3 linked regions of the Homo sapiens genome follow. The protein of the gene in region 1 purifies or fractionates together with the protein of each later gene. This does not show direct contact. Each region holds a gene or a part of one and is shown on either strand. Other genes may lie near its edges. The genes, in order: EMC8, NCAPD3 and PRRC2C.

Region 1 (3,500 bases):
GTGAAAATGTCCTTTCTCTCTAAAAAGTAAATGAAATTGCATGAGTAAGTGCAGAATGCGGAAGGTGTCTATATCAGAGTCAGTTTGACTACATTGACAACAGTCTCCACAGAGTTTTCTCCTGACCTTTTATTTTCATCTTGATTTTTCACAAGATGCACATCAGGGTGTGGGGTGTCGTACAGCGAAGCAGGGACATGGAAATGGATTCATTGGGAACAGAGGTTGAGTGGCTTCTCGGCTGTGCCTTGTCTTGCCTCGCTTCGGAGGAAGCTAGTTGCCTTGACTCCTAGCTGCCACTTAGATCCACCGCAGCTTTTCATGCAGGAGCCATTTGGGCTGAGGGCAGGATCCTGCAGCCACTGGAGACCTGGCTGCCACACCCACACCTACACCACCAGCAAGCCCCATCCTCTTCCCCCAGCCCACTCCACTCCAGGGCACTCTCACCTGATGCCTAGTTCCAGATTCCGGACTGTCACAGGAAACTACCCTTATTAGAACTCATCCACCCTGCCGCTGTGAGTGCTGAGGCTTGGCCGAGTCTCCGTTCCTCCCTTCGAGTTCTCCATTCCTCAGTTGGTGAACGGGCTGTGTGCACCCCTCATAGCCATCCATACAGCTAACTTGGTTATTCTCATGTGTGTCATTCAAAAGTTCTAAATTCTAAAGCCAGGCCAGAGCTTTTGTGACCTGGTTCGCTTTAAGGGCAACCTCTTCAAAGAGGTTCTACTTAAAGTTCCAGGTCATGACATTTTTCTGCTGGAATTTGGTTGGGCCCTTGGAGTTTTCTTACAGGAATTTGTCCCTCAGCAGGCAAAATGTAAGTTGAGATATACATGTGTTTGTCATAGGAATCATCTTTTGTACCAGGTGGTTTCTGTGCTCTGAGAGTGGGTACAAGGTGATACCATATGTGTTTACTGGGCTATGAGTCCTAACCAGGTGGCTTCAGCCCAGGAAAGAGATGGAGTAGCCAACTGAGACTGCTGCTGGGGGTCTTCAGGAAGTTGCCTGTAGCTAAGTAAAAAATATGTCCTATGGTTTTTCCTAGAAAATGTTGTATGGTATGGTCAGCTGAGTAATAACCCCCCAAATATGTCCACATCCTAATCCCCAGGCCTTATGTAGCAAAAGGGATTTGTAGATGTGATTAAGTTAAGGGCTTGAGGGTGGAGAGAATATCCTGGATTACCTGGGTGTGCCTCATGTAATCACAAAGACCTTTGTAAAGGGGAGGCAGGAAGGTCAGAGTGAGAGGAAGAGATGGATGATGGAAGCAGAGGTCAGAGTGATGTGGCCATGAGCCAAGGAATGCGGGCAGCCTCTAGGTGCTGGAAAAGGCAAGGAAAAGGATTCTCCTCTAGAGCATCCTGAAGAAGCACAGCTCTGCTGACCCATTATAGACTTCTGACCAGTAAGATAAAAAATTTTGGCTGGCATCATCCTCAGCAAACTAACACAGCAACAGAAAACCAAACACCGCATGTTGTCATAAGTGGGAGTTGAATAGTGAGAACACATGGACACAGGGAGGGGAACATCACACACCAGCGCCTGTCAGAGCCGGGGAGCGAGGGGAGGGAGAGCATCAGGACAAATAGCTAATGCATGCGGGGCTTAAAACCTAGGTGACGGGTTGGTAGGTGCAGCAAACCAGCATGACACATGGATACCTATGTAACAAACCTGCATATTCTGCACATGTATCCCAGAACTTAAATAAAAATTAAAAAATAAAACATGCACTTTAATCAAGTACGGTTTATTTCAGAAATGGAAGAAATTAGGGAATTTGAAGTTAGAAAATCCAAAAAATGTATGCATTAAAAATTCTAAGAAAAACAATCATATGATAATCTCTATGGATGGTGAAAAATCCTTCAATAAAATTTATTTCTTGCCTTAAAAAAAAAAAATTGGGCATGGTGGCTTGTGCCTGTAATCTCAGCACTTTGGGAGGCCAAGGCAGGAGGATTGCTTGAACCCAGGAGTCCAAGATCAGCCTGGGCAACATGATGAAACCTTTGTCTCTACAAAAAATTTAAAAATTAGCCAGACAGGATGGCGCACACCTGTAGTCCCAGCTACTCAGGAGGCTGAGGTGGGAGGATCACTTGAGCCCAGGAGTTCAAGGCTGCAGTGAACTGTGATCTCACCACTGCTCTCCAGCCCGGACAACGGAGCGAGACTCTCAAAAAAAAAAAGTGTTGTTTTAAGCCACTAAGTATGTGTAACTTGTCACAAGGGCAATAGGAAACTAAGACAGTGGCCAATCTGACTGTGAAAATAAGGGCAGGCTACACTGGAGAGCAGGGATAGGGACACCCGGGGGGCAGAGATGTGGGTCACCTTAGGGGAGGACACACTCAGGAGGCCGGCCCATGATGGCACATGAAGGCTGGGAGCACGGTGCTCAAGGATCAGCTCATCAGGGAACTTGACCAAATTTAGAGCAAGCCCCTTTGATAGTGTATAGAGATGTTTGTTCTAAGCAGCAATAGAAAGCTTCTGGAATCTGTTCCATTAAGAGGTGATAGAAACAAAATATGAGTCGTTTTGGAGTTGTTTTCAGCAAAGTCACAATGATAGCACCATTATAGATATTTTACAGACATAATCCTGATCTTTTGGGTGGATGACCAGAATGTCTAGTTGGTTCACTGAGCCCTGGTTTTGACCCAATATGGTAATTCGTGAACTCTTAGGAGGCCAGAAATATCCTAATCCTGTGCAAGGCAGGGACCCTTGGACTGTAACTGTCTTGTCTGCTTTTGGTCGTGAAGGAGACTCAGAGGCCCAAACAAGAATTTAGGAAAAAGAGCAATAGGATTGTGTTTAAAAAACACACACATCCATTTTTAACCAGTTTATTCCCTACAAAAAAAAAAAAATCAAGGTACCAATTTTGTTTCCTCTTGTGCAGACTGAGAATAGACTTTATTACAGTGTATTCAAATTCCATTATGCCAAAACAGGATGAGCTTTTGTTGTTTTGAATAATGGCCTTAGACCTGCAGGAAGCTGCATCTGGTGAGAAACATGGTACCATAAAAGAAACCCAAAAACTTCAAAGGTCTGCCACCTTGCTTCCATTTCAAAGCACGCCGGAGAGAACTAAGGACATGTGCACGTGCCCCTTCCTAACTTGGGACCTCTTTACCCTACACCCCAACTGAGGGGTATTTCATGATGCGGTGCTTAGAATGCTGAGATGGAGTATAAAAGACTTTTTTTTTTTTTTTTGAGACGGAGACGGAGTTTCACTCTTGTCACCCAGGCTGGAGTGCAGTGGCATGATCTTGGCTCACTGCAACCTCCCCCTCTGGGGTTCAAGTGATTCTCCTGCCTCAGCCTCCCGAGTAGCTGGGATGACAAGCGCCCACCACCACGCCCAGCTAATTTTTGTATTTTTAGTAGAGATGGGGTTTCTCCACATTGGCCAGGCTTGTCTCGAACTCTTGACCTCAGGTGATCCGCCCACCTCAGCCTCCCAAAGT
Region 2 (3,729 bases), on another chromosome or scaffold:
AGTTTGTAGCATATATACTTCAGAAATTATAGCTTAAAACTACACTAAGACTTTTGGGACACCATATATTAGTGATTATTCAGGAAAGTTATCCCTCTATTTATATTAAAAGGAACTCAAATTCCTTTACCAATAATTACTAACTGAGGAAATCAGAGCCCTTTATTTAAATGTTCTGCAGATTGCAGGCAATGGGAGCAGGAAATGAAAGAGATCTCGGAAATGGCCCAGGTAAAGGAGATAAACCCTAGAAAAGAAACCACAATTGTATTAATTCTATCTTCATTCCATGTCTTCTCCTACTAAACACATGAAGAAGAAATGGGTTATTTTAATAACCTAAACATAGCAGGAACTAAATATGGTTTATCCTTGAGTATCGTAACAAAAAAAGGCCCACAAAATTCAAGTGAGCAGAGCACTCTCCTTTCCTTAACTAAAAAACTTACGGGAGAAATCATCTCCACTGGGCACAATGGCTCATGCCTGTAATCCCAGCACTTTGAGAGGCCAGGGCAGGAGGACTGCTTGAGCCCAGGAGTTTGAGAACAGCCAGGGCAACAAAGCAAGACCTTGTCTCCACAAAAAATAAAAAATTAGCTGGGCGTGGTGGCACACACCTGTAGTCCCAGCTACTCAGGAGGGTGAGGTGGGAGGCTCATGTGAGCCCAATAAGTTGAGGCTGCAGTAAGCTTTGACTGTGCCACTGCATTCCAGCCTGGGTGACAGAGCAAGACCCTGGTCTCAAAAAAAAAAAAGGGGGGGGGGGGAAGAAATCATCTCCTAACTTTACAGTGTCACATCCTCATTCCTAATGCCACCTGCACCTCCACTTCACACACGAGGGTGATCGATCACCCTAAACCATCTGCTCACCAGGGCTCTGCATATGGGGTCACCTTGGCCCCATGTGATCCCATGGCTGCTGTCTAGTCTGGGCGTCAGTGACCCTGCACTCCCTACATGTGACTGCTCCTCTGCAGACCCCGTCCAATCAGCTCTCCATTTCTGTCCTGGCTGCTTCTCACCCTCGGTGATCTCATGCATCACTGTGCTTCAACCCATACCTCAATTTAAAGAACTCTCTTCTCTCTCCTGGTCTCACATTTCTACTACCTGTTAAACTTCCCAAGGATCTCCTGACAGAATCTCAAGTTCAGAAGTCTAAACAGAACTGTTTCTCCATTTGACCTTGCTCTTTTTCCCTTATTCCCCACCTTGGTTAACAATATCATCATCTTCCTAGTTTTGAAACCCTGGGGATCACTGACTTCTTTCTTTTTCTAATTCCCTATGCCCAGTCAGTTTAGCACTTCACACCATGTTTTTAAGATATCTCAAAAGGGCTTCCTAGTTCACAAGGCCCTATTAATTCTAATTCCAAAAATGTCCCTAGTTTTTAGTCTTCCTTTCCAGTTCCCAAAATTGTAACTCCGGATCATGCCATTATTACTCATAACACCTGGATCACCAATACAGTCTCCCAAGGGCTCTCCCTGCACACAATTTTTCCCACTTCAGTCCACCTACTGTCAAGAACGTCTGCTTAAAACAGATCTATTCATGTTACCTATCTATTGCCCACTGTAACCTCTTTCACACAGGCTGCTTGAGGATTAAATGAGTTAATACATGCAGGACGCTTAGAACAAAACCTCATACACACTCTACCAAACATGTTCAAACTCCACTGCTGAACCTCACGTAAAGCTACCCGTGACCTACCCTTACTCTACCTTACCATCCCGTTCCACCACACTTTTTCTGTATGCCTCTTGACACTTCCTGCGTGTTCCCATTGGGTGGCTCCTTCACTAGGACTGCCTTACAACCCAAGCTTCTGCTAGTCATCTGTGAAGATTCGCTGCTGGCCACTTTCTTTCTGGAACTTTCCCAACCCTACCATGCTCCCTTTTTCACACCCTATGCAACAAATCCGCACCTCTCTTGGAGCATTTTTCACAGTGTGGTTCGTAGAATATTTCCAGGCGCCCAAATGCACAGTGGCACTGAACTCTCCACCCCCTGCAACTGCATGTGGCTGCTAGACCTACTTTGGCTAGTGTTCAAATGTCCACTCTTCCTCCCTGAGGTCCCTGGGGAGGACCTCAACCTAGGGAGATTGTATCGTAATCCCCACTCTGTCAACTCAGGTACTTAAGGCAGTGCTTAGTGTTATGCTGAAGGAATGTTTAATTAGATGATTTAATTTTGTGATGTGAAACTTGGAAGTGAATTTTTTTTTGTTCATTTAAATGTTTCAGAGATGTTAATATCCAATTAGCTTTTGTTCTGTTTCCCAACCCTTTGGTTTTTTTTGAAAACTAACAACCTAAATATTAATAATAATTTATATTTCTATGCATTGGATAGAACTCAATATTTACAGGAACTGTTTGGACAAACCTGTTAATTCAACTAGTCATTCCTCAGTTTAATAATATCAGATTTTCTTTTTTTGTGAGACAGAGTCTTGCTCTGTCGCCCAGGCTGGAGTGCAGTGGCGTGATCTCGGCTCACTGTAACCTCCGCCTCCTGGGTTCAAGCAATTATCTGCCCCAGCCTCTCGAGTAGCTGGGATTACAGAAGCCCGCCACCACAACCGGCTAATTTTTGTATTTTTAGTAGAGATGGGGTTTCACCATCTTGGTCAGGCTGGTCTTGAACTCCTGACTTCGTGATCCACCCACCTCGGCCTCCCAAAGTACTGGGATTACAGGCATGAGCCACCATGCCTGGTCGCAGATTTTCTTAAAGTTAAGGTTAAGGCATGTCTGAATTGTTATTTGCATTTTCCTTGGTCTAGTTTTCTTGTTTTTGCCTTTATATTTTTCCTTTTTTTTTTTCCTTCTGAGATGGGGTTTTGCCATGTTGCCCAGGCTAGTCTCAAACTCCTGAGCTCAAGCAACTGGCCAGCCTCAGCCTCTCAAAGTGCTGGGATTACAGACGTAAGACACCACACCCGGCCTTATACTTTTCCTTTAATTTGCTATTGTAAAAAACAGTCGTGTCTTAAAAAAAAAAAATCAGACAAGTACCTTGAAGCTTTTGGAGGAAAGCTCTTAGGATATTCCAATAAATTAACCACATTCTTTATGTTACTCATATTGTACTCCCTGTGAACTGTACACCAAGAAAGCTAAGCTTCAGATTATAATAATGACTTTCATCTTCTACTTCTAACACCAAACTTTGGCTAGTTTGTTTTTATATTTTTACCTCCATAGATCCATGTTCTCCAGTAGCAAAGGGTAAAAGGCTTTCATAGAGTTTTGTGAATGCAGCCAATCCAGTCTCTATGATCTCTGCTTCTATGCTGGGATCCAAAGGCTCAGTCTCTGTGAAATCCAGTTCCCACACTGTGTCAACCCATTCTAGGGGAAAATGCAATGAAATGTGTAAGTACTCTGTAACAAGTAAAAAAACTAGTCACCTTTAGATTCCAGGTGTGTTCAAGAGGAGAAAAGTTTACTAGTCACGATTCACATTTAACTTGTTTTAATAACATAGGTGTAGCATAATAAAAGAAAACCAGAAAAGGTTAAGAGAATCTTAAATCACAACTGACACTGACTATTAAGCTAATCATCTTCTAAAAATATAAAGGAGGAAATACTTTTCAGATACAAGAGTTTTGGGAAAGGACACTTCAAAACATTCAGTGATCAGGCTTTCCCACATGTTCAATCTAGAGAAGAAACAGAGGTTAATCAGATTGCCCACGAGGTT
Region 3 (3,729 bases), on another chromosome or scaffold:
TCCCTGAGTATTGTTACTTAAAATTCTAATAGTTTGGTTACGGGAAATAAACTATTCTGTTTATTTTGGTTATCCTGATTCTCTTGGAATTTTAAGGGAATGTTCAAATTCCAAGTAAAAATTTCCTTTTTCTAAATTATCTGGAACAGCAAACTAATGCTGTGATTTGAACATATCCCTCAAAAGTTCATGTGTTGGGCCACGTGCAGTGGCTCACACCTGTAATCCCAGCACTTTGGGAGGCCGAGGTGGGCAGATCACCTGAGGTCAGGAGTTCGAGACCAGCCTGGCAAACATGGCGAATCCCTGTCTCTTCTAAAAATACAAAAATTAGCCGGGCATGGTAGTGTACGCCTGTAATCCCAGCTACTAGAGAGGCTGAGCCAGGAGAAATGCTTGAACCCAGCGGGGTGGAGGTTGCAGTGAGCAGAGATTGCGCCACTGCACTCCAGCCTGGGTGACAGAGTGAGACTCCGTCCCTCACCCACGCCCTCAATAAAAAAAAAAAAGTTCATGTGTTGGAAACTTGGTCCCTAATGGCAATGCAGCAGTGGTGAGAGGTGAGAACTTTGGAAGGTGATTATGTCATGAGGGCTCTGCCCTTCTGAATGGATTGATTGATCCTTAACAGGTTAATGAATGGGTTATCAAGGGAGTTGGTTAGTTACCATGAACGGGTCTGTTATAAAAGCCAGTTGTGCCATCTCTTGTGAGCCCCCTCACCATGTGATAAGCATGCTGCCTTGGGACTCTGCAGAGTCTCTACCAACAAGAAGGCCCTCATGAGATGTCGCCCCCTCAACCTTCGACTTTGCAGCCAACAGATTTGCAAGAAATACATTTCTTTTCTTTATAAATTACCAGATCTCAGGTATTTAGTTATATCAACAGAAAATAGACAAATATACCTTATGGGTATAGTAATCTGAAGTGCTAAGTATGTAAAACTAAGGAACTCAGATTAATACCATACAGTCCAAATAAATTCTTAAATTCTTATCAGCTCAGGCTGCAAACCTGGCAATTGCTCTAAAAGCAGGGCACACATAATAATGATTACTTACTATATACCAGGTATTAAGTGCATCACAAGTATCATCTTAGTATCTTCACACATTAAGTGCTATTATTTTCTCCCCATTTTAGCGGTGAGGAAGCAAAGGGGAAGCAACTAGAAAGTACTAGAGCCGAGATTTGAACCTAGGCATTCTGAATCTTAACTGCTACGTTATAATGCTAACACTAAATAAATAAATCAATACTAGCTTACTATAACCAACTTTTTTTTTTTTTTTTTTGAGACGGAGTCTCGCTCTGTGGCCCAGGCTGGAATGCAGTGGCACAATCTCGGCTCATTGCAAGCTCCACTCCCAGTGGCGCCTGCCACCACACCTGGCTAATTTTTTGTATTTTTAGTAGAGGACGGGGTTTCACTGTGTTAGCCAGGATGGTCTCGATATCCTGACCTTGTGACCCGCCCAACTTGGCCTCCCAAAGTGCTGGGATTACAGGAGCCACCGCACCAGGCCCAACATCTGAATAGTTAAAAAAACAGGCCAAGCAACAGGTGCAGTGGCTCACACCTGTAATCTCAGCACTTTGGGAGGCCGAGGCGGGTGGATCACGAGGTCAGGATATCGAGACCATCCTGGCTAACACAGTGAAACCCCGTCTCTACTAAAAATACAAAAAATTAACCAGGCATGGTGGTGGGCACCTGTAGTCCCAGCTACTTGGGAGGCTGAGGCAGGAGAATGGCATGAACCCTGGAGGTGGAGCTTGCAGTGAGCCGAGATCACGCCACTGCACTCCAGCCTGGGTGACAAGGCGAGACTCCATCTCAACAACAACAACAAAAAACAGGCCAAGTTTAGCTTACTTGAGAAAAAATATTTTTTTAAAAAAATCCATTGCCATGGCAATTATGTTATTGGTGTCCTTGGTAGTAGAACAGGGATTTGTTTTCTGGGCCTCTCTCTAGAGTGACAAAGTATATGGTTATAACATTAATTTAAATCTCAGAGGACACCTGTGTAGCATTAGAGGTTTATTAGGAGAAACTGAGAAAGAAGGGAGGGCTACTCATCAGATAACTTACCAAATAAGGACACAGTACATGTCCCTCCTTAGATGTGAACATTTTCCCAAAGCTACAAGTTTCCAAGAGAACTCTTCTGGAAAATGTAACGTAGCAGGCAAAGACTCCTAAGACACCTTAACCTCTCTTCCTTAAGCACCCTTACACTTTGAGAACAGAGAATAAAGCATTTGGGAAGAACAATGTTTTTTGGTCCTTTATCTAGACTGGCTCTTTGCATAATTCAACCAAGAACTCTACTTTTAGCTTCTTTAAAGGTGCAAAAGCAACTATATTTAAAACAAAGTACTCACCCTCTCTTCCCACTTTTTGATGGTGGGCCACTTCTCCTTTCATTTCTAGGACCTGAGAAATTCCTTCCTGATTTGGGTGGACCATTGTTGCCACGTCGATTCTGACGATCTACTGGTCTCTGACTAGAAAAACTTCTCTTTGCAATTTCCCTCTTTGGAGGTAGAACATTCTCTCCAACCTTTACAACTGTTTGTGCATTCAAGTCAGCATTTTTTTTTTCATCCCTCTCTCGCCTCTCATTGAAATCACTGCTTTCAGAAGCTGTTTCCCATTCTTCATTTGCCTGATCTGAAGAGTTCTGATTAGATAAATCTGGTGTCTTATTCCCGGAAATATCCCCAAGAGTATTAACTGGTTCTTGAGCCACATTATTAACTGTGCCATTTGTGGGCACTGCTACCACCTCATTTGATTTTGAAGCAGCCTCCCTCTCTCTTAGCCGTCTAAATCGAGGTGGCTTGTCTTGCCTTGGTGGTCGAGTAGGACGCTGCCTTCGAGGCCTTTCTCTAGCTGGGTCAAATTTTCGCTCAAATTTTGGAGGTCGTTTATCTGCTGCTATAGGAATAAACTGCTCATGTCTTCTTGGCGGCTCTCCATCTTCTGGTTTAGGAACTTCTGACTGCCTTGGGTTCCACTGATTGTCCCGATAAGCTGGTCTTCGTAAAGTGGAAGGGCGTGATGGACGGCCTCCAGGATCCCTTCCACCACGCCTGAATGTTCCCCCTCTGCCTCTCCTTGTAGGCTCTCCTTTAGGAAGAAAGCCTGGTTTAGCTTTATCGTCATCCCTTACATAAGGCTTTTCTAGCAGTCTATTATCTATTCGAACATGATTATCAGGCTTGAAAGAAGAATGAGGCTTTACAGGTTTTTTGTTTTCAGGCCGTTCCTCTCTTTTGGGAAGTTTGCCTTTACTTAAACTGTCCTTGTCACTTGCACTTTCATGAATTTCACTGTCTGTGTCAGTCTCTGAACCCCGCTGTCGTCTTCTTTTGGGGACAACTTCAAAATCAGAGCTCTCACTCCGTGTTTCACTTTCTTCTCGCTGTCTGAGAGGCCCTGAGGGTATATGCTCTGCTCTTGGCTTATTGTCTCTATACTGAGGATAATCTCGAGTGTGTCCCCTACCACCCCTGCCACGCCCTCCATAAGAACCTCTATAGCTTCGACCTCTGGAGTAATATTCACCTCGGCCTCGACCTCTGTATCCTTGATCTGGAAACCAATCTCTCTCTCTAGCTTCTTTCCAATAGGTCCTGGGAGGCAAAGTTGATTCTTTTTTAACTGCTGGTCTTGAATCTGGTCGAGGCCTCTCTATAACAAGGTCTTTGCTGATGACT

What was found.
Region 2: the proteins of EMC8 (region 1) and NCAPD3 purify together in Homo sapiens (co-immunoprecipitation; one large-scale study listed by IntAct). This does not show direct contact.
Region 3: the proteins of EMC8 (region 1) and PRRC2C purify together in Homo sapiens (affinity purification with mass spectrometry; one large-scale study listed by BioGRID and IntAct). This does not show direct contact.

What each region holds. Positions count from the first base shown.
Region 1 is NC_000016.10:85,789,545-85,793,044, reverse strand, and holds part of EMC8 (ER membrane protein complex subunit 8), read left to right. Parts: intron 1-111; exon of another isoform or gene 112-748; coding exon of another isoform or gene 749-823; intron 824-3,500. UniProt on the Homo sapiens protein: Part of the endoplasmic reticulum membrane protein complex (EMC) that enables the energy-independent insertion into endoplasmic reticulum membranes of newly synthesized membrane proteins.
Region 2 is NC_000011.10:134,217,353-134,221,081, forward strand, and holds part of NCAPD3 (condensin-2 complex subunit D3), read right to left. Parts: intron 3,375-3,729; coding exon 3,220-3,374; intron 3,140-3,219; exon of another isoform or gene 3,039-3,139; intron 1-3,038.
Region 3 is NC_000001.11:171,540,892-171,544,620, reverse strand, and holds part of PRRC2C (protein PRRC2C), read right to left. Parts: coding exon 2,392-3,729; intron 1-2,391. UniProt on the Homo sapiens protein: Required for efficient formation of stress granules.